Linked DNA regions of Homo sapiens. The protein of the gene in region 1 purifies or fractionates together with the protein of each later gene. This does not show direct contact. Each region holds a gene or a part of one and is shown on either strand. Other genes may lie near its edges.

Evidence for each region.
Region 2: the proteins of BLVRA (region 1) and TLN1 purify together in Homo sapiens (affinity purification with mass spectrometry; 3 studies listed by BioGRID and IntAct, with this or other methods). This does not show direct contact.
Region 3: the proteins of BLVRA (region 1) and DDHD2 purify together in Homo sapiens (affinity purification with mass spectrometry; 3 studies listed by BioGRID and IntAct, with this or other methods). This does not show direct contact.
Region 4: the proteins of BLVRA (region 1) and TBX20 purify together in Homo sapiens (affinity purification with mass spectrometry; 3 studies listed by BioGRID and IntAct, with this or other methods). This does not show direct contact.

What each region holds. Positions count from the first base shown.
Region 1 is NC_000007.14:43,761,671-43,768,693, forward strand, and holds part of BLVRA (biliverdin reductase A), read left to right. Parts: intron 1-960; exon of another isoform or gene 961-1,104; intron 1,105-2,534; exon of another isoform or gene 2,535-2,635; intron 2,636-5,583; exon of another isoform or gene 5,584-6,033; intron 6,034-7,023. UniProt on the Homo sapiens protein: Reduces the gamma-methene bridge of the open tetrapyrrole, biliverdin IXalpha, to bilirubin with the concomitant oxidation of a NADH or NADPH cofactor. Does not reduce bilirubin IXbeta.
Region 2 is NC_000009.12:35,701,187-35,708,209, forward strand, and holds part of TLN1 (talin-1), read right to left. Parts: intron 6,707-7,023; coding exon 6,545-6,706; intron 6,303-6,544; coding exon 6,162-6,302; intron 6,068-6,161; coding exon 5,886-6,067; intron 5,715-5,885; coding exon 5,582-5,714; intron 5,366-5,581; coding exon 5,264-5,365; intron 5,181-5,263; coding exon 5,010-5,180; intron 4,926-5,009; coding exon 4,776-4,925; intron 4,666-4,775; coding exon 4,564-4,665; intron 4,485-4,563; coding exon 4,365-4,484; intron 3,630-4,364; coding exon 3,483-3,629; intron 3,313-3,482; coding exon 3,146-3,312; intron 2,989-3,145; coding exon 2,805-2,988; intron 2,715-2,804; coding exon 2,589-2,714; intron 2,491-2,588; coding exon 2,374-2,490; intron 1-2,373. UniProt on the Homo sapiens protein: High molecular weight cytoskeletal protein concentrated at regions of cell-matrix and cell-cell contacts. Involved in connections of major cytoskeletal structures to the plasma membrane.
Region 3 is NC_000008.11:38,234,581-38,241,603, forward strand, and holds part of DDHD2 (triacylglycerol hydrolase DDHD2), read left to right. Parts: coding exon 1-4; intron 5-2,957; coding exon 2,958-3,047; intron 3,048-3,508; coding exon 3,509-3,629; coding exon of another isoform or gene 3,630-3,691; exon of another isoform or gene 3,692-4,512; intron 4,513-5,694; coding exon 5,695-5,784; intron 5,785-7,023. UniProt on the Homo sapiens protein: Diacylglycerol (DAG) and triacylglycerol (TAG) lipase required for proper lipid homeostasis in the central nervous system. It cooperates with PNPLA2/ATGL in neuronal TAG catabolism and hydrolyzes sn-1,3 DAG downstream of PNPLA2/ATGL.
Region 4 is NC_000007.14:35,251,085-35,258,612, reverse strand, and holds the start of TBX20 (T-box transcription factor TBX20), read left to right. Parts: upstream 1-4,512; 5' UTR 4,513-4,992; coding exon 4,993-5,119; intron 5,120-7,528. UniProt on the Homo sapiens protein: Acts as a transcriptional activator and repressor required for cardiac development and may have key roles in the maintenance of functional and structural phenotypes in adult heart.

The DNA.
Region 1 (7,023 bases):
AGAGCACCTTGATATGTTATTGCCCTGTGAAAGTCTGTTCAGTTTGGGGCTAGGAGGGATGCAGTCAGTGAAAGTGGCATAGTTTGTAATGTTTTTTAGAGTTTTGAATAATTATGTTAACTAATCTTTATAGAAAAGTTTAAAGTGTACAGAGAAGCAAAAAGAAAGTAGTCACTAAAAGTTTCACCACTTAGAGACATAATTACTGGTAATATTTTGATGTATATATTTCCAGACTTGTGTCCCATGTAGCTATTATATTTTTCTCAATAGATCCCAAAGTATCCAACTCCCTCCAGGGCAAGAGTTGCTTTTACCTTTACCCTTAGACCTCTGAGGCTGGCAGCTGGCCCCACCTGAGAGGGTCACCCTCTCCCTAATCCTTCCCCATACTTCTGTGAGTCACCTGGCTTTGGGGCAATAATAGATACTTGAGAGGGCGTTTGAGGAGGAACAAGGAGGAAGGTCACAGCTGTAGTTCATTCTGCATGATGTGTAATCCAGGCTTTTTCAACTCTGGCACTGTTGACATTTTGGGCTGGATAATTCTTTGTGTATGTGTAGTTGGGGTAGGAAGGTGTCCTGTGCATCACAGGATGTTTTGCAGCATCCCTGGCCTTTCCCTACTAGATGCCAATGGCACATACCCTTTTCCCCCCGAGTACAACAATCAGAAATGTTGGTGAGAAATACTGGGTTAATGAAAATCACTAATTTATTGCTGACAAAGCTCTGGAGTTTCAGATTCCAATTTGCATGTGGGAAAGAGACTGAAATCAAAAGGGAAACATAATGTAAGCCAAGGAAGCTGTTTAGTCCTGGCTGTGCTATTAATTTACTGTGAGATTTTGCATCTCTCCCACGTGCAAATTGGAATGTGAAACTCTAGAGCTTTGTCAGCAATAATTTAGTGATTTCCATGAACCCAGTAGTTCCTTTTTTTTTTTTTTTTTTTTTTTAAGATGGAGTCTTGCTCTGTCACCCAGGCTGGAGTGCAGTGGGACGGTCTCGGCTCATTGCAACCTCCGCCTCCCAGGTTCGAGCAATTCTCCTGCCTCAGCCTCCCGAGTAGCTGGGACTACAGGTGCACGCCACCATACCCAGGTAATTTTTGTATTTTTAGTAGACATGGGGTTTCACCATGTTGGCCAGGATGGTCTCGATCTCTTGACCTCATGATCAGCCCCATGCCCGCCTCGGCCTCCCAAAGTGCTGGGATTACAGGCATGAGCCACCGTGCCCGGCCCTTAACCCAGTAGTTGTTACTGACATTTCTGATTGTCGTGCTGGGGGGAAAACGGTATGTGCCACTGGCATCTAGTGGGGAAAGGCCAGGGATGCTGCAAACTGATATACTGCCAAGTTTATCAGTTGGGAATCCCAACAGTGAAAAGCATAAAAATGAAAGGAATTTTAAGGAGACTTTTTATAGAAGAGTGGGCAGGATTGGAGGAGCCAACAAGTGATGGTGAGGCACACAGGGAAGAGCTTCAGTGGGCACCATCCCCTCTCTGGTTTGAAGGGGTAGGGAGGGGACCAGAGCTGGGAGGAGGGGGCTGGAATACTGCTGGAGGAGCCACTCCCTTCCAGACCTGCTGTGGCCATCACAGAATGCAGCCACTGCCAGAGCAGCAGCCTGAGGAACCAGGCAGGGGGAGCACAAGTACCCTAGCCTCTCTCTTTCTGTTTCTTGCCTGCCGATCTCCTCCACTGGCTAAACCCAGCTGGATGCTAAGAGTACAGTCAGCCTGCCTGCTGAGGAGGGACCACCAGGGACCACCATCAGCAAGGGATCCAATGTCTTTCTGCCTCTGCAGAATGAAGGTTGGGGCACGGGGGGCGCTCTACTTCTTAGGGATATTGTGGGAATAAAAGGAAATAGGCAAAAAATGTTTTTGAAAAACAAAGCACATACTGCGCACCCGTGGGCCACTACTGCTTTTGACCCCTGGCTCTGTTTCATGAAGTAATGTCGTGTCATTCTCTTTTTAGGTGCTACAGGATTTCTTTAGGTTTGTTTTCTGTCCACCATATTTCAACTCATGTGTGCTGTTTGTTGTGCTAAAACAAATATTTGCTGATGCCTGAGTGAATAGTTGAATATTTTATATAAGTCAAATTTATACGTAATGATTTTTCTTGTAACTTAGCCGTTTCTCTTTTACAAACTCAGAAAACCTCAGACTTTGAAAAGGCCTTGAAGTTCCTCACCTGAAATCTGAGAACTTGGAGCGCCTTAAAAAATCTAAAGGAAAACAAAACAGTGAAAGAACATGATATAGTCAGTGTAGAGAATAAAATTATTTATGTAATTAATATTGAGGATGCAGATAACACGTTGTGAAATCTTGCTTGTAAAAAATCTCGATCTGCTGAAGAAAGATGTTCTCTCTAGAGATCTTTGAAAGCATAATTATTGAGCTTTTAAAATGTTAGAAACAAAAGTTAGACCCACACATATTCTGGCGTGTGGAAGATTTGCATTCCTTCCCCTGCCCGCCCCGCCCCCGCACTTGTGAGTTGTGCCTGTGTACGCAGTTCCTGTAGCACTCGGCTGGGCAGAAATCATCTTTCAGCACTAAGGGAACATAGTTATGATCTGGACCTTCTGGGAGTGGTCAGTGCCCAAGAACAGGTATGGGACTCCAGAAAGTTCTGCTCTCAACCCTATTTTGAAATAGAGTTACACATTGTTCTACAATTATTTGAGTTAATAAGCAGCTCTTTTCAAACGTGATTATGCCCTTCCAAGTTTAAATACACTAGACTTTAGTGAAAGTAATTGACCTCATCTCATTTCTCTCCTGTTATATTAAGATCACTTTCAGTAAAAGGTAGAAGCTTTTGAAGTGGTGAGGAGGAGGTAGAGGAGGGACATAGAGCAGATAGGGGCTGGAAAGTGGGGTGGGGAAGAGAGTGGCTTCTCTTTGGCAGAGTACCAAGGAAAAGCCCTATCTGTACAGAACCTTTGTGCCTGGGAACTTGATGGCTGCAACCTGAGCCTCAACCTAGTTTGCTTGCGGAGCCAGAAGAGAAGCTAAAAACCTTCAGTTAACCAAGCCAGACACCAAGAAAGTTAAACCGAAAGAGAACCCCCCACCCCCCGCAAAAAAAAGAAGTAAAGTGGGTTAAAGTGATATGTTAGCACAGAAAGAGAACATAAGGGTCATCTAAGTTCATCTGCCCCCTCTTCTATTTCAAGGTGCAGAAACTAAGGCACAAGGGACCCCGTGTCCTGCTCTTGATCACATAGCTAGTGGGTGCCAAGCCAGGTCTAGAACTCTGTTCTCTGGGGTCACAGGCTGGCTCTTCATCCCTCTAGAGAGATAGCTCATCTGTGTGCACCTGAGCCCGTTGTGTTTCGGAGTCAAAGCAAATAAAGGCTCAAACTCCAAGACTGTTTTGCAGACCGGCTGCAGTAGATACGGGGGGAGGAGAAACCTGCTTTAAATTGCTTCAAGCAAGTTGTTTCTGCAAAGGTGTTGACTTTTTTCTTTCAACTTTCTAGTGAGTCACTGCAGCCTGAGCTGTTATTTGTCATTATGCAATAATTCAGGAACTAACTCAAGATTCTTCTTTTTAAATTATTTGTTTATTTAGAGACAGAGTCTTGCTCTGTTGCCCAAGCTGGAGTGCAGTGGTGTGATCTCGGCTCACTGCAACCTCTGCCTCCTGGGTTCAAGCAATTCTCATGTCTCAGCCTCCCGAATAGCTGGTATTACAGGCTCGTGCCACCACCCCCTGCTAATTTTTGTAATTTTAGTAGAGACACGGTTTCACCATGTTGGCCAGGCTCGTCTTGAACTCCTGGCCTCAAGTGATCCGCCCGCCTCGGCCTCCCAAAGTGCTAGGATTACAGCCGTGAGCCTCCACACCCGGCCTATTTATTTATTTTTAAATTGGCTGCTCTTAGAAAGGCATACCATGTTTCTGGATGGGAAGGCTTATTAATTCACCCTAATTTAATGTATAAATTTGATGCAATCATAGTCACAGTCCCAGTGGAATTTTTTAACTTGGTAAGATGTTCTAAAATTAATGAGAGAACTTGAATTACCAGGTATTGAAACACTGTAAAGCCACAATCATGTAAACAGTATGTTATAACCATGGGAATAGAGGTCTGTGATACAGCAGAAAAAAGTGAAAAAAAGAATAACTGTATTCATAAAAATTTAAATGTGGAGTCACTGGGGGAAAGGATTAAATATTCGATAATGTAGAAACAACTCAACTATTTGGAGAAATGTAAATTTAGAGCCTTATCTCATGCCATATACCAAAATACTATTTAGATTTGATTAAAAAATAAAAATGTAAATAAAGAAAAGTTAAGGCAAGGCGTGGTAGCTCATGCCTGTAATCCCAGCATTTTGGGAGGCCGAGGTGGGTGGATCACCTGAGGTGAGGAGTTCCAGACCAGCCTGGCCAACATGGCGAAACCCCATTTCTACTAAAAATAATTAGCGTGGTGGTGTGGTGGTAGGCGCCTGTAATCCCAGCTACTCAGGAGGCTGAGGTGGGAGAATGGCTTGAACCTGGGAGGCAGAGGTTGCAGTGAGCCGAGATCCCACCATTGCACTCCAGCCTGAGTGACAAGAGTGAAACTCTGTCTCAGGGAAAAAAAAAAAAAAAAAAGTTAAAAATCTAAAAGAAAATAAAAATGTATCTATTTAATATAAGTCTTTTGGGAAAATATTTCTCAGCATAATACTAAAAGTTAGAAAATAGAATGTTTTTGTGTTTGACCATTTAAATAGTACACCTTTGAAATTTAAATAAAAAAAGGAAAACTAAACAAACCAAAACCTTTTTGTTACAGGATTAGGTCTTAGATATTTTAAGATATATTAAAATACAGAATAAAGTTCCTCCTTGATTCTGTTCAGAGTTTAACTAGTCCTGGCCAGACAATGGGGAGGAAAGGAGAGGGAGCTGTGTGATGGGCAGGCAGAGAGTTGGAAGGTGGAGCCAGATCTCGCTTGGCCTGGGATTGCTGCCTCTCCTGACGGTGCATCTTATCGTAAGGGGGAGTTGAAAGCAGAAGGGGAAACAGCACAGAAAGGATCTGTCTGGCCGTTACAGTTATGTGACCATGGCAGGTCCTGCCAGTCACTCACAGCTCTGTGAGCAACTAGCTGGGGTACCCCAGCTGAATGTGCTTTAAAAACAGCAATGTGGCCAGGTGCAGTGGCTCATGCCTGCAGTCTCAGAACTTTGGGAGGCCGAGGCAGGAGGATCACTTGAACCCAGGAGTTCGACGTTGCAGTGAGCTGTGATCATGCGTGCCACTGCATTCCAGTCTGTGTTAAAGAACAAAACCCTGACCCTGAAAAATAAACAAATAAACAGCAATGCCACTTATTCTAGGTGGTACACCCCTGATGCCCAGTGTACGAGTTCCATTTAGGCTTCTTTCTCGTGCATATGCATCTCTCCACATCCTTTCGTTTGTTTGTTTTCTTTTGTTTTGCTTTCCCCAGATTATGTAGGAAAACAATAAAGTTCATAAGTAATGTTCTGTAGGCCACTTTTATAGGAAAACTTTCCTCTAAGATCTCATTAGAAAAGAAAAGCAAGTAGCCTGCCACCGAGCACCTGTGCCAGCACAACTACACTGTGGAGCACCCAGATAAAGTGGCGCTGAACGCACTGCAGCCTCCTAAGTTCGGAAAAGAAAGCTCATTAGCATCTACACTGAAGACGCTCCTGTTCTTCACAGCTTTAATGATCACTGTTCCTATCGGGTTATTTATATTTCACAACTAAATCTTATATATCTGGAGGCGCCCTTGGGATATCCAATAAGGACAGCTGTTTTTATGCTGCTATTGTTGCCGTGGTCACCGGCCATGTGGTGCTGGCCCTCTTTATGTATGTGGTCTGGAATGAAGGCTCATGACAGTGACATGAAGGCAAACAGGATTAAAGTGAACATCACCTTTTGATAGCATTAAATTCATTTTTTAAAATGATAAATGCTGGAGGGGGGACATCTGATTTGAATAAAATTGAAAGAACATGTTAAAGTCAGTCTTAAGGAGTCATGTTTGAGTAGTGTAAATTTTGATCCTCCTAATATGTTGTTTGTATATTCAGTTTTAACTATATGAATCTCATTTGCAAATGAGAATTTGGAAAAGTTAAATTAGTTACAAATAGATATGTTAATTACAAAAAAAAAAGAAAGGGAGAGCAAGTAGTAGTGAGATTTCTGCAAGGTCAAAGGACTCAGGGCAGTTTCTTCTGAATGTAGTTTGGGGGCTGGAGAAAGAAATAGGAAGCAGTAGAATTGCTAGGTCAGATTGGAATTTTAAGAGCTATTGCTGCACTACCCTCCACAGAGATGCTACCCACTTGTAGTCCCCCAATAATATCAGAGTGTATTCCTGACCACACTTTAACCAACACACTCTGGCAAACATTTTGATCTGTCAGTCAGATAGGCCTTCTTGCTATAATCAGAATTTACATTCTGTGATCATGACTGAGGGTATCATTCTGCCTGTTATAAGAGTTACCTGAATTTCCTTTTCTGGGAACCAGAGAGCAATTTAGAGCTGGAGCAGACCTTGGAGATGAAGTCCAACCATTCAGCCTACAGCCTATGACCCGTTTGACCGTCGTTGTTGCTTGGGTAGTTCAGGACTGACAGGACTGGACACCAGGTCTCCTGTTTATCCTTGAAGCTCTCTGGGTGAATGTAAGACAGGACCTGTCAAGGCCTCTGGCACAGCCTGGGTTTGAGTCTAGAACCAGAAAGTCTGGAAATTGCAGGGCAGTGCCGCAGTGCCTTGGCTGTGAAGCAGGGTGCTTTACCCTCCCTGAACTCCAGGCACTTCGTCTGTAAAATGGAATTAATACTAGCTTTTTTTTTTGCCAGGGTTCTGAGGATTAGGGTTAATGTGTATGAACTAGCTGACCCAGAGAGGCTCACATCTGTTCTCATCCTCCTCACATTTGGGTGTTCTGTTATCTGTTATCTGTTCTGTCACTGTTCTGTTATCTGACTATCACTCACGT
Region 2 (7,023 bases), on another chromosome or scaffold:
TGGTGCAGGGGGATGGGGCACAGAAAGGAAGAGAGTAGGATGAGACTGGAGAAGCAAGCAGAGCCATCACTAATGGGTTTTAAGTAGTGAAGTGACATAATCTAATATATATATATTTCTTGCTCTGTCACCCAGGCTGGAGTGCACTGGAGTGATCATAGTTCACTGCAGACTTGAACCCCTGGGCTCAAGGGATCCTCCTGCCTTCAGACTCATGAGTAACTGGGACAGGCATGGGCCACCTTGCCCAGCTAATCTTTAAATTTTTTGTAGAGACAGGATCTTGCTATGTTGTCCAGACTAGTCTTGAACTCACTCAAGTGATCCTCCCATCTCAGTCTTCCAAAGCGCTGGGATTTTACAGGCATCAGCCAGCATGTCCAGACTCTAATTTATATTTTAAAAACATAATTTTAGCTACTGTGTACAAAGGAGGATTGGAGGGGGCAAGTGTTGAAGCATGGTGACTGGATAGAGACTACTGCATAAATCCAGTTAAGGACTGATGATGGTTTGGACAGTGTGGTAGTGGTAGGAGATAAAAAGAAAAAATGAGCTGTATTTGGAAGGGGCACTAGCAAAACTTAGATGTGGGGAATGAGAGAAAGAGAGAAGTCTAATATATTGAAGCTAGGTTTCTGGCTTTAGGAACTGAGTTACTAAGAGGTGCCATTTACTGAGATGGGGGAAGACCAGGAAAGGACCAGGTATGGGAGGCAGAAAGTCAAGAGTTCCAACTTGGACATCTTCAAGTAAAAGTGAAAACAGAACCTTAGAAAGATGCATTTAGAAATTAGAAAGATGAGTAGGGAGAGAGGAGAGTGGCAGGGACCAGAAGCAGGGAGACCAGGGAGAAAACTGGTGCCACAGCCAAATTGCGGGAGAGTATGGAAGTGTGAACCAGAGTGCGGACAGGGAACCAGGGAGGAGGAATGAAAGGACGTGGCAACAGCCTGGATATGGTGGCTAAGATGGTGAAGTCAAAGATGACTGAGGTGGAATCTTCATGACTGCAAGGGTGTTCCCACCATTAGGAGGACCATGTCATGGTTCGGAGGCACTGCATCTAGGTGGTGATGTCAAACAGGCAGTTGAAAATAACTCAACTCAGAACTGGATGTCTGCTTCTTACAGAATAATAATGAAAGTGGTTAAACTTGCCAAAGAAGAGAAGAGAGAAGGAAGACTATTTGTACAACCCTGGGAAGGCCTCCACATTTACTAAGTTAAAGGTGATTCAATGACGTTCGAGAAACAAGAGAAAAGCCAGTATCTAGGCCAAGGGAAGAAAGAATTTCATTTTTTTTCTTTTTTGTTTTTTTTTGAGATGGAGTCTCACTCTGTTGCCCAGGCTGGAGTGCAGTGGCGCCATCTTGGCTCACTGCAACCTCTGCCTCCCGGGTTCCAGCGATTCTCCTGCCTTAGCCTCCCAAGCAGCTGGGACTACAGGCGCGTGCCACCACGCCCAGCTAATTTTTGTATTTTTAGTAGAGACGGGGTTTCACCATATTGGCCAGGCTGGTCTCGAACTCCCGACCTTGTGATCCACCCGCCTCAGCCTCCCAAAGTGCTGGGATTACACCCGCTGGCCTCCCAAAGTGCTGGCGTGAGCCACCATGCCCAGCAGAAGAAAGAATTTCAAAGAGAGGCTTGTTAACACAGTCAGATGCTTTCGAAATATTCAAAGAGGATGAAGGCCAAGAAGTGGCCACTGAATGTAGCAACTAAGAAGAGGCCACTAGTGACTGGAGAAAGTGGGAGGGTGGTGAAAAAATACAGTTGTCACATGCTAAGGAATAAACAAGTGGGTAGGGGACAGACATGAATGTAGCTCACTGGCACAGTGGCTCATGAGTGTAATCCCAGCACTTTGGGAGGCCAAGGCGGGTGGATCACTTGAGGCCAGGAGTTCGAGACCAGCCTGGTCAACATGGTGAAACCCCATCTCTACTAAAAATACAAAAACTAGCCAGCATGGTATGCACCTGTATTCCCAGTGACTCAGGAGGCTGAGGCATGAGAAGCACTTGAACCTGGGAGGTGGAGGTTGTAGTGAGCTGAGATCACGCCACTGCACTCCAGAAGGAGGGTGTGGGAGAGCTGGGGTAGGGGAAGTCACATGGTGACTGAGGAAGATGCCATGTGAAATGGAAAGGTCACCCACACCTGGGAGAAATGACAAGAGGAGAGGGCTGAGAAGGCTGGAGGAGGATGGCTACAGAGCAAGACCCTTCTCAAAAAAAAAGTCTGGCGATAGATGAGAGAGAAGACTGTGTGTGACTCCAGCTGTGAGTATATGTGTGGCACAGGTTCACAGGCTTTCAGGATCCCTCTCTCTGACCCTAGTCACTGATGCCCCAGACTCTCACTCACCGCCAGCTCCTGCCGTATGTGTTCTGTGGTTGCCTCCAGGGCCCGAGTGCCTTTGGTGGCCTCATCTTCCACGGCTTTTACTGTCTTAAGCAATGATGTCACATTGGTCACCATCACCTGGAGGTATCAGAGGAGTGAAGAGGAATGATTTTAAGGAACAGGAGGAAGTATGTTAATCCAGTGCCCCTCCTGATGTTGCTCTCATTCTCTCCAACCTTGGCAGAGTTCTTTAGCTGCCACACAGCAGGGTCATCTCCAACTTTGCCAGCTGCAGCCTTCGTTGCACTGATGAGGTCTCCCAGGGCTTTGGCTACATCTTTCACTGCGTTGATTAGTACCACCTGTGTGGGAAAGCGTTGGCTCTGGTCTATGGGAGGAAGAAGCGGGACAGGAAGTGATTCCAGCCGGAATTAGGGGCATCAGGTCACTACCTGGGTCTCAGGGTCCTCAGCTCCCAGGCTGGCTGCACCCAGCTTGACCACATCAGCGAGGCGGGTGATGGTCGCCACGGAGGACTGGGCAGCCTGCGCCAACTTCTCCTGGCTCCCAGCTGCGTTTTGCACCAGGACCTTGGTGTCCTCCACCAGCACCTTCGCAGTCTTCAGGATGCCCTCCCTGAGGGAGGGCCCAGCTTAGTCAGATCTCCCCTACCCGCTCCAGCCCGTCCAAGGTGCCTGGTCCAGGTCTTCCCCATTCCAGCGAATGCTATCCTGCCTCTTCCAGCCCCGTGCCCCGACCTGTCTGCCTCCCTTAGGCCCAGTTCCTGTCTTACCGGTGGTCAGCGAAAGTTTCAGTACCCTCACGATTGAGCGTGCCAGCAGTGGCGAACATGATGGTGGTGTCGAGGTCAGCAATGATACCAGACACAGCGCTGGCTGCTGTGATGCAGGCCTGGGTGCCACGATTCCCAGCCTGGAGCGCAGCCAGGACGTGGGAGACCTGGGTAGGGAATGTCACATGGTGACTGTGGAAGGTGCCATGTGAAATGGAAAGGTTGCCCATGCCTGGGAGAAGTGACAACAGGAGAGGGCTGAGAGGGCTGGAGGAGGATGGCAAAGGCTACAGAGTTTGGAGGCAGTCCCACCATCTGCAGGGATGAGCACCGTCACCTTCTCAGAGACTCTCCGGGCACACTCTATGAGCTCCTTCTTGGTGTAGGCATCACTGGGGCTGCACTGCAGGGCGCCTGCCTTGGTGACCAGAGCGGCACAGCCATGGCCCAGCTCCTGTACCCGGTGTTTGATATGGGAACCTATCTGTGAGCCAAGGGAAAGACAGATGGATTTTACAAGGGGCACTCAGGGTACCTTCACTGTGCTTGGAAAAGTCACTAAGGACATAGAAAAAAACATGCATTGTAGACTAAAGAAGCAGAGAGAGAAGGTTCCCAGCACAAGGACGTTTCCGGTTGCATATCCTTTAGGCAGAAGGTCACCTCCTACACACAGAAAATAGTAGCACGCAGGCACTAAGTGGTGAGGATTGTGTTAAGCACAGTGGGGAGAAGGGGAGGAGCACTTTATGCTTGAATGTGGGAATCAGAGGGCCGTGGATTACCATGTGGCCTGTATGGGGTTATGGAGGGTTTTAAGGATGGGCATTACATGTGTCCTGCTAAGATCCAATTACTTGCTTTCTTGGAAAGCTAGAGGCTTAGGTAAGGAAGAGCTTCATGAGTTTGCAACAAGAAAGAACAAGAACATGGACTGGCAGCACAACAGAGAAGCAGCTGTAGGCCCAGATGAGGGTCGGCAGAAGCCAGAAAGGCAGGCCCGGGAAGGCTCCAGATTCTGAGCTGTTTCCTTTGTACCTGTGACTGAAGGCTTTGATCCTCTGTCCCTACCCAGAGCCTCACTAGTCTTCAGCAGAGTGGCCCTGAGGCTGTTCCCCTTTCTATGAAAGACCAGAGAGGGTGGGGGTGGGACAGCCCTAGACACTGACACATCAGGAACAAGGGGCAGGGGGCAGGGCAGAGTTGCCTCCACGTTTACCTCTTCATTTTCAGCAGCCACCGCTGCAGGCTTGGCCTCCGAGGCCAGACGGCCATAGTCACTGGTCAGCTGGTTAGCAAGAGGGCCCAGCTCCTCTGGGCTGGTGTTTGACTTGGTAACCTGGTGATAATGGAACGAGTGAAGTTATATCCAAAGTCAGCTCTCCGAGGGCAGTCCTCTGGGACTCGCCCAAACTCACCATCTCCTGAACGGTCACTGCAATGGCCTTGGCTGTCCGCACCATAGTTGTTTGGTAATCCACGAAGGAACCTTCTGGTTCACCCATTGGTCCTTCATCTAGCTGAGGGGGGAGGATAGGGAAAGGGAAAGACTGTTAGGGTCTCTGCCACTGTGCTTGGAGGCTCTGGCCCAGGGTAGCCTCAGTGTCCAAAGGCACCCCAAGACTCTAACCTGGTTGATGGCCTGGGTGATGGAGTCCACCATGCCACCCACGACCCCAGCAGCACTGGCTGCCTCGTTGAGGGTTGTTGTCAGGTCCTCTACGGCCTCGGTCATCATCTGCACAGCCTCCTCCAGGGCTTCCTGGGTGTGAGCTGCTTGCTGTGGGGAGAGGAGAGGAGCTCTGTTGTTCCTGTTTCTCCAGCCTCCTGCTAGTAACAGCTCCTCCCTCCCAACCCTCAATACCTTTGGGTTACCACCAGCCTCCTTGGCAGTGTATAGCAACTGCAGGGCAGACTCTGCCAATGTTTTAGTCTGGTCCAGGAGTGCCATCTGCTGCGGGTGGCTCAGGGTCTTGGAGGCAGCACCCACTGCAGCCAGGGTGAGCGGCTCAAAGTACTGCGCCATCTGGGACACCTGAGGCAAGGGGTTGGACTAGGGGTCAGGTCCCCTCTCTCTCACCCTACTCCCTGGGACTTCCCATGAGTCTCCATAGGTACCTTGTGTCCCAGCTGGGAGGCTTCAGCCCGGGCAGCATTGGCCAGCGGCTCAATGAGATGGGAGATCTCTTGGACTGCAGTGAGCATCTGAGTGTGCAAGGCCTGGGGAGGAAGTGGACATTAGCCCTGATGGTGACCTGCAATAGGACCCTCTGGCTACAAAGAACTGCTCTTCTGTCCATACCAAATACCCTAACCCTCCTTCGCACATCCCAGCCTTTGATGTCCCTAAGAAGCCACTCCTTGATCCCCCAGCTTCTTTGAGTCTGATATTTCTCTTCCTAGACACATCTTTCCATATAACCCTCTCCCTCTCACCTCTTGAGAGATTCCCTCACGGGGAGCAAGCTGCTGGCTGACTGCAGCGAGGGAAGCCTGGTCTAGGTCCCGTAGACAACTGTTCAGAGCTGCAATGGCCGTTTCACACTCCAGCTGCCCTGGAGCCTTGTCCCTGCAGACACATCATGGGCTCCAACACCAAGAACATCCCCTACTGCAAGGCCAGCCTATCCTTCCCCTGTATCCTCCCAACACCATCCCATCTCATTGCACTCAAGTGCCCATCCTCCATTCTGCCACAATGTATGCCCCCCAGCCACACTGGTTCCCCATCCCTCAATACCTCATGCTTGTAATTAGCTTCTTGATGGAGTCTGAGACAGTACGGGAGTGGCCGGCCAGCACCGACCAGCTCGGGGGGTCCCGGGGATTGACTGCGAGGGCCCGGGCTGTCTGGATGAGTCCCCCGGCACTCTCTAACATTGTCTTGGCAGAGATCACAATGGGCTCCATGGCAGCCCGACCCTGGGGAGAGGGGAGGCAGGAAGGTAAGTCTCAGGAGTCCCTGGAAGATGAGGTGATAAGCTGGCCCATCAGTTCCCCCTTCACATCGCCTCACCTCAGGGCTGATCTGGGCAGGAATGCTGGAGAACTCAGGGTTGGACGCAAAGGCACTCAGATTGTCCACAGCCTCCAGCAGAGGGGCTGTTGCTGCTCGGCACTGGGCACGGTTCTCCTCTGTGAAGGCCCCATCTAGCGCCTAGAAGTGACAGAGAGGCTCTCAGGACTTGGGATGCAGTCATAGGGGGTATAGGAAGTGAAGTCCAGGTCTCCTTCCTGGGACTTACAGGATTTGGGGAGAGGCTAGGTGGTCAGTCTGAATAGAAAGAGCTTGGGCTCAGGCAGAGGGGATTTGGTAGAAGGCTTCAGAGAATAACTGGGGGACTCGGGGGAGAAGATAGGACAGGTCAGGGAGAGGCTGGGAATTCAAGCAATGGGAACCTTGATGGTCTTGACAAGATTAGCTGTGCTGTTGGCCACCTCCTTGGCTGACTGTACAAACTGGCGCTTGGCAGTAGGATTGGTGGTACGGGCAGAAGCCAGGCGACAGCTGTTACACAGTGCAGAGGTGTGTTTAGCCACAATGGTGGCTGCAGAGAGCACCTGAGGAGACACATGGAAGAGCCACGATGAGGGCAGGAAGGAGGTGTACATACCCAAGGAGGAGCCATTTTAGGGTCAGGGGATGGAGAGCAATACCCTGAGGAGTCAAAACAGGAATAACAGAGTCACCTGAAAAGTCAAGATCTAGGAGACAGAGATACCCAAAGATGAACTGGGCATGGGAGAGGAAAGACATACTAATGGAGAAACCATAAGAGGGCATGTGGGAGAGTAAGCTCGAACATCTACAGAGAAGTTGTGAATTTAGCAGTAACTGATAAATGATGAGACCCATGGCAGAAAAAGACAGTTACCCA
Region 3 (7,023 bases), on another chromosome or scaffold:
AGAGGTATTCTTTTGACTCTTTTTTTACTTATTCTTTCTTTCTCTTATTTAATAATCTTTTCTTTCCTTTGTAATTTATTTTGTGAAATTTCCAGAAAGACTTTGGTTCTGTCTGCATCACATTATAAAACATAATAAAGCATTTCTATTTACAAGCAAGTTTCAGGATAAAGTAGTCTTATTTTCAGATTTTTTTTTTTTTTTTGAGACGGAGTCTCGCTCTGTTGCCCAGGCTGGAGTGCAGTGGTGCGATCTTGGCTCACTGCAACCTCCACCTCCCCGGTTCAAGTGATTCTCATGCCTCAGCCTCCCAAGTAGCTGGGATTACAGGTGGCCGCCACCACACCTGGCTAATTTTTTTTAAGGGGCACTGCTATCTTTCCTCAGAAAAAGAACAAAACTGTTTGGGTAGTATTTTTTTTCATGTTTCATTAAAATCAGGAATGGTTTGACGGTTTGTAAAGTAGGTAGTGAAAAAGATATGAATTAGATTCCATTTTGTTTGGTGTTTAGCCAAGTAGGAACTGTTCATTCATGTGTTTCATAACATTATTTAGAATATAACTCAGAATTGTATGTTGGGAGATTTATTTTGAAATATGTACTTCTTTTCCCCTTTTCAATCCTTGAAAGGAAAATATTGTAATGGGAGAGTTGTTCCTACTGATTTTTATTAGAGATGGGGTTTCACCATGTTGGCTAGGCTTGTCTCGAACTCCTGACCTCAAATGATCTGCTGGCCTCGGCCTCCCAAAGTGCTGGGATTACAGGTGTGAGCTACTGTGCTTGGCCTTTTTCAGATTTTAAAATACGATGGAAATGGTTGTGGTGTTTTAAGGTGTAAAAAAAGAAAAAAATACTCCGGGCCTGGTGGCTCACGCCTGTAATCCCAGCAGTTTGGGGGGCTGAGGTGGGCGGATCACCTGAGGTTGGGAGTTTGAGACCAGCCTGACCAACATGGAGAAACCTCGTCTCTACTAAAAATACAAAATTAGCTGGGCACGGTGGTGCACGCCTGTAATCCCAGCTACTTGGGAGGCTGAGGCAAGAGAATTGCTTGAACCCGGGAGGTGGAGGTTGTGGTGAGTGGAGATCGCACCATTGAACTACAGCCTGGGCAACGAGCAAAACTCCATCTCAAAAAAAAAAAAAAAAACTGGTGGGCACAGTGGCTCTCACCTGTAATCCCAGCACATTGTGAGGCCAAGGCAGGAGGATGACTTGAGCCCAGGAATTTGAGAACAGCCTGGGCAACAAAGCAAGACCCCACCACTACAAAAAAAAGTACACGCGCACACACACACACACACACACACACACAAATACAAATGCAAACTGTATTATGCTATGGTCACAGGATTGATCTTTTTTAGCTTTTATTTTTCTTGCTCTGAAAACTGAAATTTTTCTTTAAATTGGAGTAGAGCGTTAGTATTTTTTGTTGTTGTTGAAACAAGAGTGTCGTTCTGTTTCCCAGGCTGGAGTGCAGTGGCACGATCTTGGCTCATTGCAAGCTCTGCCTCCTGGGTTCTTGCCATTCTCCTGTCTCAGCCTCCCAAGTAGCTGGGACTACAGGCGCCCGCCACCACGCCCAGCTAATTTTTTGTATTTTTAGTAGAGACGGGGTTTCACCGTGTTAGCCAGGATGGTCTCAAGCTCCTGACCTCGTGATCCGCCCGCCTCGGCCTCCCAAAGTGCTGGGATTACAGGCGTGAGCCACCACGCCCAGCCTTTTTCTTGTTTTTGGTTTTTTTTTTTTGCTTTTTTTGTTTTTGTTTTTGTTTTTGTTTTTGAGACAGAGTCTCACTCTGTTGCCCAGGCTGGAGTCCAGTGGTGCGATCTCGGCTCACTGCAACCTCTGCATCCTGGGTTCAAGCACTTTTCCTGCCTCACCCTCCTAAGTAGCTGGGATTACAAGCGTGCCTCACCACACTGGCTAATTTTTTTTTTTTGAGACGGAGTTCCACTCTTGTTTCCCAGGCTGTAGTGTAGTGGCGCGATCTCAGCTCACCGCAACCTCTGCCTCCTGGGTTCAAGCGATTCTCCTGCCTCAGCCTCCCGAGTAGCTGGGATTACAGGCATGTGCCACAATGCCTGGCTAATTTTGTATTTGTAGTAGAGATGGGATGGGATTTCTTCATGTTGGTCAGGCTGGTCTCGAACTCCCAACCTCAGGTGATCCACCCGCCTTGGCCTTCCAAAGTGCTGGGATTATAGGCGTGAGCCACCGCGCCCGGCTCACACTGGCTAATTTTTGTATTTTTAGTAAAAATGGGGTTTTGCCGTGTTGGCCAGGCTGGTCTCGAATGCCAGACCTCAGGTGATCTTCCTGCCTTGGCCTCCCAAAGTATTGTGATTACAGGCATGAGCCACCACGCCTGGTCTAGAACATTAATATTAATATATTAAAATGTGAACACTAATTATCTAGCGTAGATGATGGAATTAGGAGTATTTTTCCCCCTTTGTCCTGGTGCTACTATCAGTTGTAATTTCAAAATAATTTAAAAATAGGCTGGGTGCTGTGGCTCATGCTTGTAATCCCAGCACTTTGGGAGGCCGAGGCAGGCAGATCACCTGAGGTCAGGAGTTTGAGACCAGCCTAGCCATTATGGCCAAACCCCGTATCTACTAAAACTACAAAAGTTAGCCGAATGTGGTGGCGGGTGCCTGTAATCCCAGCTACTTGGGAGACTGAGGCAAGAGAACTGCTTGAACCTGGGGGGCGGAGGTTGCAGTGAGCCGAGATTGTGCCACTGCAACCCAGCCTGGGCGACAGAGTAAGACAAACAAAACAAAACAAACAACAACAACAACAAAAAGATTTAAAAATAAATTTGATAAATTGGAGTAGGATATTCTTATTGAAACTCATTAATACATAGTATTCTTGTTAATAGGTTCAGTTTAATAGGAAAGCTACTAGAGAACTCTAATGAAATGTGTTTTCTTTTAAGGAAACTTACATGCTTGCTGTAACTTTGGATGAATGGAAAAAGAAACTGGAATCTCCCAACAGAGAAATTATTATTTTACACAATCCAAAGGTAAAACAAAGCATTTCTCTTGTCGGGATAAAAAGTTAATTGCGCTATTAGGGAGAACTCAATTGGTTTCTTTTGCTAAGCACTCTGTGTAGGATAACCTTTGTCAAATTTTATATTGAATTCACAGTTATGAAACTTAAAAACTTGTAGCCACTACTGTTATTTACCCAACTCAGCTTATACAAAATAATTTTCTTATGGAAAATTATGCCACTGTAGAATAAGAAAATCACTGACATATTATGTGAGCATGTCTTCCATGTAGAAAGGGACTATTGACAGATCTGTTAGCCTAATATATTTTCACGGTTCTCATTTCAAGCCATACGAGTTGTATATCAAAACTCCAGTTCAGATTTTACTGTGTGGTTTGAAAGACATGATTCTACACTTAAAACTGCATTGTATAGAGATGATTGTATTGCAGAATATTTTTATTGCTCTGATCTGTTCTGTTTAAGCTTATGGTGCATTACCAGCCAGTTGCAGGGTCTGATGATTGGGGTTCAACACCCACGGAGCAGGGTCGACCAAGAACTGTGAAGAGAGGAGTTGAGAACATCTCTGTTGACATTCATTGTGGTAATGTTAATCGTTTATTTTTTCTTACCTTTGGATGTATTTGTTTACTCCTTAAATTGTGACCTTTTTCTGTGGATTTAGATTACCTCAAGGCTTAAAAATCATCTTTAATCATATGGGTTTATTCCAAGTTGAGATTAGCATCACTTCGTCTACTAAGAATCTTAATAGATGTAAAAATATCTTTTAAAACATATGGTAGGATGGGTAAAATTTGGCAATACTATCCAGGAAGTCACTAAGTACAGATGAACTGATTTAGTCCTAATTCCAAGAAGTGTGATTCCACCTACTTGACTAGAAATTTATACCTGGTAATAACTCCTTGTCCTTGAAGATTTTCAACTAAGGAAAACTGTTTTTCAGCAGGACCTGATTATGCACTGCTATCTAGGTAGGGTCACTTATGGTTTTATAATATATTTAATTGGATTATAATATTCCTTTTTTCTTGTCTCTTGGACAAAATCCTAGCTTTACTGTAATTTAAAAAGATGAGTTTAAAATTTCAGGCTTTAAAAACATACCAAACATTGATAAAAATGAAATACTAGATAAAAGTATTTTATCAATGTTCAGTTGCCTGGATTCAATAACTGTATTATGGTTATGTAAGATAATATACTTAGGAAATACACATTATGGTATTAAAGGGTTAAAGAGGTATGGTGCATGCAACCTGATGATGTATGTAGTCTGCTTTCTAATGATTCAGAAAAATAAATGTGTGTGTGTGTGTGTGTACACACACAGAGAATCATAAAGCAAATGTAATTGTTAAAAAGTTGAATCTCTGTAAAAAGTATGTGGGAGTGTCTGTACTATGCTTTCTAGTTTTCTGTACATTTCTAGTTATTTAGAAATAAAAAGTTTTAAAAACCTGGCTGCACGTGGTAGCTCATGCCTGTAATCCCAGCACTTGGGGAGGCCAAGGTGGAAGGATCACTTGAGCCCAGGAGTTCGAGACCAGCCTGGGCAATATGGCGAAACCCTGTCTGTACAAAAAATACAAAAATTAACTGGGCATGGTAGCACACATCTGTAGTCTCAGCTATTTTGGAGGCTGAGGCAGGAGGATCACTCGAGCCCAGAAGGTTGAGGCTGGAATGAGTGTTTATCATGCCACTGCACTCCAGCCTAGGCGACAGAGTGAGACTCTGTCTCAAAAAAAAAAAAAAAAAAGTTTTTAAAACCTGAAAAAAGGCCAAGTGTGTTGGCTCACGGCTGTAATCCCAGCACTTTGGGAGGCTGAGGCGGGCGGGTCAGGAGGTCGAGACCATTCTGGCTAACACGGTGAAACACCCTGTCTCTACTAAAACTACAAAAAATTAGCCAGGTGTGGTGGCGTGTGCGTGTAGTCCCAACTACTCGGGAGGCTGAGGCAGGAGAATCGCTTAAACCCGGGAGGCAGAGGTTGCAGTGAGCCAAGATCGTGCCACTGCACTCCAGCCTGGGTGACAGAGCAAGACTCTGTCACAAACAAAAAAAAAACCATAATTTAAAAAAAAAAAAAAAAGAGTTTTTTTTTTTGGAGACAGAGTCTTGCTCTGTCACCCAGGCTGGAGTGCAGTGGTGTGATCTCGGCTCACTGCAACCTCTGCCACCTCCAGGGTTCAAGTGATTCTTCTGCCTCAGCCTCGCGAGTAGCTGGGATTACAGGCATGTGCCACCACACCCGGCTAATTTTGTATTTTTAGTAGAGATGAAGTTTCACCGTGTTGGTCAGGCTGGTCTCGAACTCCTGACCTCATGATCTACCTGCCTTGGCCTCCCAAAGTGCTGGGATTACAGCCGTGAGCCACCGCGCCCAGCCGAGTTTTCTTTTTCAGAGATCAGAAAAAAAAGAAAAAAGTCCTGAAAAAAATTTTACAGACTTATTTCAAGATAAATTAGAAACCAAGTAAAATCAGTGTATTTTTGCTAGGTACTTAAAGGACTATTTTGTATCTTTTAAATTATCTGTTCATCTTTTAACTTGCTCATATTTATAACCTTTTCATGATGAATGATATTAGAATACATGACTAATTATACAGAATAATTTTCTTTTTAATTTCATTTATAGGAGAACCTTTACAAATAGATCACTTGGTTTTTGTAGTCCATGGGATTGGACCAGCTTGTGATCTCCGCTTTCGAAGCATTGTACAGTGTGGTAGGTTTGCAAAGCATGTGAGAGAATATTAATCAGTGCTCTTGTGAGCTGAGATAAAGCCTTGTCTTTGGTCTATTGTCTTAGCTGCATAAGAAGATTTGGAGAGTTAAAGACAGGTGGCAAGGTAGTAAAGCTTCTCAGCTTAGACCTGAAGTGCTAGGAAATTCCTGAGTCTAATAGTTTATACTCTTAACTATTGTAATAGTCTCAAATGAACAAGCAGTTAATCCCTATAAAATTGTGTTTTATGATGTGGTGGTCCTATTTCTAACTATTTCAAATTTACAGGGAACCATAAAGATGATAGAGTTTAATGAATAACAGAAGCATCAATCATTTTTGTAATTCATACTGTGATAAACCTTTGATATTGTAATTGGAGGATTTAAGTCATTAGTATAACTAGATTTTGAAAGGTGTCCTCTAGGCTGGGTGCGGTGGCTCACGCCTGTAATCCCAGCACTTTGGGAGGCCAAGGCAGGTGGATCATGAGGTCACGAGTTCAAGACCAGCCTGGCCAAGATTGTGAAACGCTGTCTCTACTAAAAATACAAAAATTAGCCGGGCGCAGTGGCAGGCGCCTGTAATCCCAGCTACTCGGGAGGCTGAGGCAAGAGAATCACTTAAACTCGGAGGGCAGAGGTTGCAGTGAGCCGAGATCGGGCCACTGCACTCCAGCCTAGGCAACAGAGTGAGACCTCAAAAAAAAAAAAAAAAAAAGGTGTCCTCTAAAACCTGATAGTATTCAAAGTTTAATTGTTCCAATTAGGGTGTCTTATTCTAACTGGCTAATGGTTCTAAACATAAACTAGAATTGTATTGTGGAAGGTTGAGACTGATGTGATATGAATTTCAAACAACAGTGTATTTTTTTTTCTTTAAAGTATTGGGTGGTGCTTGTTTATAAGAACCAGAAAGTTAGGGTAGGAATTCAACTGCAAGACTGTTGTTATATTGTCATGTGATTAAAAAAAAAATGAAACAGTTCTCATGATGCCGACGTTTTGAAGTTTAGCTTTCTTTTTTTTTCCTTTTCCTTTTTTTTTGTTTTTAAATATATTATTTTCTTTCCTGAGACAAGAGCTTTGCTCTGTTGCCCAGGCTGGAGTGTAGTGGTGTAAACTCAGCTCACTGCAACTTCTGCCTCCCGGGTTCAAGTGATTATCCTGCCTCAGCCTCCTGAGTAGCTGGGATTACAGGCGCACACCACCATGCCTGGCTAATTTTTGTATTTTTAGT
Region 4 (7,528 bases), 8.5 Mb from region 1:
GATCACGCTGCGAGTTTTGCACACAATGTTAGCACGCTGATTCTTCCACTGCCGGGAGGAGGCCCGGGGCTCTGAGGGCCGGTCCCTGCGGTAGTGAGCTCGTGGGGGATGAACGGGGAGCGAGTGGCCGCGGGGAGGAGCGAGAGGGTCGCAGCCCCGAGGGCTGTCCTGTGAGCAGGCTGCGGGGCCTGGCGCGCGGGGACCCGGGGAAGACGCTACAAGGCCTGGAGGCGCCGCGCCTTGGGACCCGGAGGAGGCCCAGGGCGGACACGTGGGGTGGCCTGGGGTCCCCCGCCCACGTAGCGCGGCTGCTGAAACTACATGTGCCCTGGGCTGCCCGCCGCCCTGAGCCTGAGGCCAGGCGGGTCAACGTCGCAGCACCGCGGGCTTCTGCCAGAAGGACATTTCCCCTCACCTCCTGACCACATCGGCCTTGGAGATGGGCGCGAAGCGCCTTACGCCCACAAGACATCCCTTTATCGGCTCTATAGCTGGGCGAGACTGAGGTCTCGGACGGAACGCGCGCACTCACACCCCATCCAGGAACTTCAGTGACACTCAGGGGTGCTGGCTCTTTGCTTTGCCCTTCGAGCAAGACTTGGGTAAGGGCTCCTCGAGCTTTCTGGTGCGGAGGCTTCCTGGGTCGGCCCGAGGCCTGTAGGTTCCCGGCCACTTCTTGCAGCTTGGCTGCGAGGGAGCGCTTCTCCGGGACCACTTTGGCTCGATAAACTAAAACCCGCGGGGTGTTCGTCGGAAGGATCCTGGGAGGCAAGGCTCAGACCCGCCCTCCCGACTCGCGGTGAAATCCAAGGCCGCGCCGCGCGCTCCCCACGGGGCACGGAGCCGCGCGCTGCTCTCGGCGCGCCCCGGGAACGCGCCGCAGCGGCCTTGGAGGGGCTGCAGTTCCTCTTCTCACTGTTCTTGGGAAGTCTTTCCTTTTCCGTAAACCTAATTTAGGAATCCAAAGGCACCGAAGCCCGTTAATGTCGCTTTTAAAGTGTCTACCAGAAAGAGCTGGAGGGAGGCTGTGGACAGGAATCTCCGGCCATGTTCGGGAGTAGACAGATGCCCTTGTGCTGAGAAGCGGGTCTCCCTTCTCCCATTCTCTCCTGCCGCCAACGGTGGCTGCCAGGCTGTGCCCTCCGCTTGGCACCCTGCCCCGCCGTCTCGGCTCTGCTCTCGACCACGGCGCCTGCGGACGGTTGGTTAGACCTGCCGGGACCGGTCCCTGCAGCTCCCAGCTAAGGGAGCATTCGTTAGCATTCGTTAAGCGAGGGACCATTGTCCAAAAGCCGGAAACCGATTACTTCCTGGACAGTTTTGGGGGTCGACTGTCTTCTGAGTTCCGGGAGCTACAAATGAGAATTTGAAAGAGTGGTGTATATAAGGAGACATCTTCCAGTCTTCCATATAATCAAATTCCATATAAACAAACTCAGATGTATAACAAAATTTTACATTCTTAGGCGCCAAAGTTTAAACGGGATGTAAATAACAATCCAATACCCTCCTGTGGCCCCAATGCTCTTTGTACATTCCAAAACTATCTACATTATATATGAGCACCCGAGAGACATGTTTCTCCAATCGCGAATTTGCAGTTCAAAATTAAATATGATTAAAATTCTGTATTATGCTTTACTTATGTTGGGTTTATTGTGAGTGTTAGGCTTTTTATACACATTAGGGCATTAATCCAAAGAGCTATCTTCCAGGTAGGAATGAACTATTGGCCCTATTCTAACGCAGATGAAGAAACTGAAGCTTTGAGAGGTTTAGTAACCTACACAAAGTCTCCGGGCTAATGCGTGTGTTAAAGTTAACATTAAGACTTCAGCAGCTTCCGCTGCCAGCAGTCAGCCTGAGAAGGGCCTAGAGAGATGTGTTAACGTGCTTGTTTTGTTCCAACCCCCGGGTGGTTTTACCTGTTAACCTGCGCTATCAGTGGCGTTTTGAAGGGACCTCAGAACTCCCCACTCTCCGCTTTGGGAAGGCTTTGAATCATCCTTCGACAGCACCTCTCTGCCCAGAACCGGTTCCCCGTTTTTATGGCATCATATTGATTTGCAAAGGCAATAAATCTAGGAGGAGGGACGGTGTGCCCCCGATAATAATGTTGCAGCATATGTTTTACTGCCGAGGTTTCAACACCAACAAGATGCATAGCCTAGAGATCCCCAAACGGGTCACCCGGATTTGTTTAAAGTGGCCTTTTCAATACCTCTCGTTTGCCGCCTGCCTCCTAACGATCACTCATCTTTTCTTGTATAGTATTTTACCTGTAGTAGGATGCGCAGTCGGGGTTTCCTGCACACAAGAGACACAGAGCTGGGCTAAGGCCGCGTAGGCACTTGGAAAGGAGGAGGAAACAGATTTGTGGCAATTCAGTTTTTCCCTTGCTTCATCAAATTTTCTGAAAATGTTCCTCTCATGATATTATTCATATTCCAGTCAAAATCATTGAGGTAATTAAGAAAAGACACAGTTGTTTTCCTCTGTGTAGAAAAACAATCAAAAGGGTTTTTTTATGAAGTATAATTTTGCGGCAAGTTTTTGAAAACTAAATTCAGCTAACAAGGTTTGCCACACCCTGTTGAAGCATATATCAAGGTCTAGACTAACCATAACATTCCCCGACCTTCCAAAATCCCCACTTCTTGAGGGAAATCTTTCTTTCTGGACAAATCCTAAGCATTTGATATAGGAAAGGAATCAGTGTGTGCCTTCCACTCAATACAAAGAAATGTCACTTACATTGAGAAGGTGTGTCTGGGGAGAGACAGGTTGGGGCGGGGGACTTTAATAACCAAAAAAGGGGTCTGGATTGGGTCTGGGTTGTCCAAAACCAGCAAAAAATTTAAGAATAGAAACGGATCCTCAGATGCATCCTGCGGTTTAATCTGAAAGCCCTCTGCTTGCCAGCCGTCGTTAACTCTACTCTGGCTCTTCAGCTAACAGCCCAGCCACAGCTGCAGGGCCAGGGGCTGATGAGGGTCGGGGCCCGGAGTGTGAGTCCTGCCCTTCCGTCTGCTTCTAGCCGCTGAGGTGGACTGGGGGGAGATGCGCGCTCTGCCACGTCGGGCCCTGTTTTTCTCTCTCAAACGCACATGGAGACCGGCTAGAAGACAGCGTAAATTCCTTCCAGCACCAAAGTCTATGGTTTTACGAATTTCCTCAAACATTTATAAATCGACACTTCGAACTTCGATAGTGATATGAGAATGCATTTTTTAGTCACCTTCATCCAGCACCTTGTTAAAAACTATTGACACACGATGACCAAGACAGGCTGAAATCACGACTCTTCCAGATGTCATCATTTTGTTCACACAAACGTTTTCGACAGCTATTTTAACTTGCCGTTTTCCCTCACAAATTTATTTCAGGAGTAGGGGGTGGTGCAGTGAAAAGTTGGAGTTTTAAAAATTATTATTATTATTTTAATTTTAAGACCCACGAAGAGGCTTCTAATAGCCAGACCGACTGGCTGGAAAAGAGAACAAATATTTACATATACAGCTTGAGTGTGTATGTCAGCCTGAGTTTACACGGCTCCAAGCGAAGCGGATTACCCTGCGAATTCGGAGAATTTGAGTTATTCAGGCTGAGCAGGGCTAACAGGACGCCCTCCAACAAGGCCGTGGGAAGTCCTCGTCACAGCCGCCTTTGTAAAACCAGAGGGGTCTGTGTCCGCTTAGTCCGGGCGCTACCATAAGGTTCGCACTCTCCCACTACGCGTCGCGTGGTTACCGTAGAGCTCCGCGCCCTGACCTTCGCCTTCTCTTCGGCAGCCGTCCCATTTTCCAGGGTCCCTCTAGGGAAAATAGGAGCCCCAGGCTAGAGACGCACTGGTGAGGAGCAGAAGCCACGGTTCTGAGAGCAGCATCCTTTGCCAAATGCCCGCAGCTCTCGCTAAGCTTATCTTTTTCAGGGCTGCATTTGCTCAGCCCCACTGTCAAAGAGATCAAATTTGGGACCATCGAATGAGAGTCCCAGCCCTGGGATCTGCCCCGAGTATGGACCTGGCCAGTTGGCGCCGGCTCAGAGGCGCCGGATTCTACTGAGCGCTTCCCTACTTTCTTTTGGAACTTTGAGCGCAGGTAAGAAAAAGAATGGAAAAAGCGAGAACTCCCGAGGCTTCCACTGGTCTGGTCATAGCTTCCCCAACTGGGCCATGCCCGGATCTCGGGCGTTAGGCCGCGGTGATGTGTCCTCTCCCGACAGCGCGCACCGCCCTCCCGCCCGGGGCTGTGAGACCAGGTGGGGATGTCCATGGCTGCTGCGTCAGCCTAGTGGTGGCACCCTTTTCCCTGAACCTGTGCTGGGGTACCGAACAGCCGGGGCGACAGGCCACGCGGGCGCCGCACCCTGGGCGCGCCCTCCGCGCCCGGCCCGCGGCCCCGCCCCCGGCGGCGGAATCAGGAAGCGGTGACGTGAGACGGCGCTGACTGGCTGCGGGCCTCCGGGATCGCCGCCGCCAGCAAATTAAGGCGCAGGGCAGCGAGCGCCAGGGCTCACTGTCCGTAGTTCCGCGCCGCGCTCCCCACGCCAGCGTCCTAGCAGCCGCGCTCGGCTGGTGGCCACCTCAGCCTGGGACATCCCGGCTGTCCCCAGCCCCAGAGGGAGGAAGGACGCGGAGGGGATGCTCCAGGACCCCAGGACTTTGTGCAGTTGATGCTCGTTTCCGCCTTCGGGCTGTGCAGACTGTCGTCCTGCCGAGCGCCCCGGGGCGTGCGCACCCGCCGTAGTGCTCGGTGGGCCCTCTCCTCTCCGGCTGCCTTCGAAGTCTCTGCGGCTCTGGGGCTTTGCGGTGGGGAATAGAGGCCAGTGTGCAGCTCTGGAGTCGTTGGAGCTGACACTTCTGGAGTCCCTGGCCCCGCTGTGACTGCTCTCGGAAACTTTGAGCTGTGTTTCGGGTCTTTGTCTCCCTTGGGGAATCTGGACGGCAGTTCGGACGACCCCGTCCCTGGCCAGGACCGCGTGCTGGGGACCATGGAGTTCACGGCGTCCCCCAAGCCCCAACTCTCCTCTCGGGCCAACGCCTTCTCCATTGCCGCGCTCATGTCGAGCGGCGGCTCTAAGGAGAAGGAGGCGACGGAGAACACAATCAAACCCCTGGGTAAGTTGGGCTACCCGGCTGTCCGCCGAGGACTGGGGATGCTGCGCATCCGTCTGTGCCCCTGGCTGCAGGCGGCTCGCAGCAACGTCTGATGCTCAAGCCATGAGCCATACATCGCGGGTGGGAGATCTTTTTCTTTTGGGTCCAAGTTTTCTTTGGAGGCTTCAGTCTGTTGAATGCTGTGAATGTGCATCTTATATCTGGGCCCGTCGGTCTCCTAAGTTGTCTAGAATCCATATATCAGATCAGACATATGGTGTGTGTGTATGTTTGTTGGGTTAAAAACATTCATGGAAAAATAATAATAAAACCCCTTTTAAGGCTCAACAGGATTTACTGTGCATGTAACACCTGCTTGTGCGTTTGAAACGGAGACGCTAAAGGACTTCATAAGAAACCAGTTTAATTTTGGTTTTCCTCTGACTTGAATAGACAAAACAGAGCAAGCTCTTTGAAACCACTGTAAAGCAGAATAAGCCAGTTCTCCCTACACGAACCATTTTATTCACTGAAGCTCTAGACTTATCACCAAGACATCATTTTATAACTGTCGTCATTTTCAGTTGAGGTTGGCAAAAACACTAACCAGTAACCATTTCTCAAATTCCTCTACTTTTAGTTATGTTGTTTGTTTAACAACCTTTACCATTTATAGAAGACACTAGGCTAGGAGTAAAGGGAGAACAGGGATTATGTTCTTCTTAACACTAGTGAATTACATGGAAAAGAACCACCCCAAGATAAATATTTAAGAATCTCTTTACAACTGAGGGAAAAAGAAGTGTTCTCATCATTGCCTCGTGGATCCCCAGGAAATAATTGTTACACAGCCTGATCGTCTGGTATCACTACAATGTGAAAATCAGATAGCAAACTTAAGTTAATTTTTCTTTTTTAACCCTCCCCAATTTTTCCTTTCTTCTCTCTGTCCTTCCCACACTTAACATATCACATCCAAAATAATGATAACATGAAAAAAAGGAAGTGTTAGAGATCAAAAATAAGGTGTTTGGGCTTAAAGATGAGAGAAGTAAAATTCCTGTAGCTACTTGAAACCAAGGAAAAAGAAACTAGTAGATCTGTAGAAAACAGAATGTCAAAAAAAAAAAAAAATCTGTCCTCTAAGTTTTCACCCCCTTCCCCTGGTTCTTCCCACCCACCTCCCATCTAAATCTAAACCTGCCAAAGAATGGAGACAATCAATCAAACAAAATCCAATTGTTTAGAAAAATATAACTAACAATTTCAAAGTTATATTGTGCGACTTCTCAACATTATACATTGCTGTTTAGGGGCCCCTGAATTCTTTGTAAACATCTCAGCTTGTTACATAGCAGGAAAAGAGGATTCCCGACAGAAGTGTAGACAGCAAATTGGGAAACATGCCAGCCCCAGCTGCACTGTCATTTCAACATTGCTTCCTTCTCTCTTTATTTTTCTGAGAAAAGCCACCTTATATCGAAAATTCTAAATCTTGAACTTTAAAGCCATGCCCAGCTCACAACTCCAACCCTACCCCCATGCCCACACACACATATAGGCACTAGTATAAAATGCATGTCCCTCTCCTGGCTTTTGAGATGGGCTCTGAAAGAACTAGCAGGCGTTCTTGTCGCTTACACTGGCCAGTTCAACAGAGGTGACTGCAAGCCAAGGACTCTATCAAGAGAAACACCTAAAAGTTCTGTTAAGAGAGAATGTGGGACTTTTGTTGAAGCAAACTATAGAGTGGGGAGGGGGATTCCAGTGTGTCCCAGGATTGCCCTTTTAAACATACAAAGTCTATTTAAAGGAACAGCTTCAGTCTGCTGAAGCATTTCTATTTCATTTTCTTCCTCTCCTACTTCCCATCCTGATGCATTGGTCAGTCTGGGGCTTAGGGAGTTTGCCTCTTTCAGTTGTCAGAAAAAAAAGTCATTAACACTACTTCTTAATTCCCTCCGAAGACATTATGTGAATGTGTTTCTGAAAATATTAGTAGAAAATAAGATTTTGTTATGGTATGGTTTCCTTTCGTTAATCTGAAAAAAATCAGGATGGCATTTAATTTGATTATTCTTAAGTTAAAACATTTTCATGGGTTGGATTATCATTGCATGAGAAGTAAAAGTAAAACCACTCTGTTTCCTGTTTTCTTCATGTACGGATGTGTAGGAAATAAAACACCTTATGATCTGTGCGTGTCCCATATGCCCACACACATCATGTACATGTACATACATACATTTAGAACTGGCTTTGATTTCTTGAGGGCACTTAAGAGATCAACTTCACATTGCAAATTCAAGTAGTTTCTTTTTTAAGGGATGGAAGATAATTGGGACAATTACAGAAGTCTCCCTGTATTCCATCAAAGTGACTGGTGTAGTCCCAGGCCCTTATCAGCTGTGGGGGAGAATGTTTGGTTCA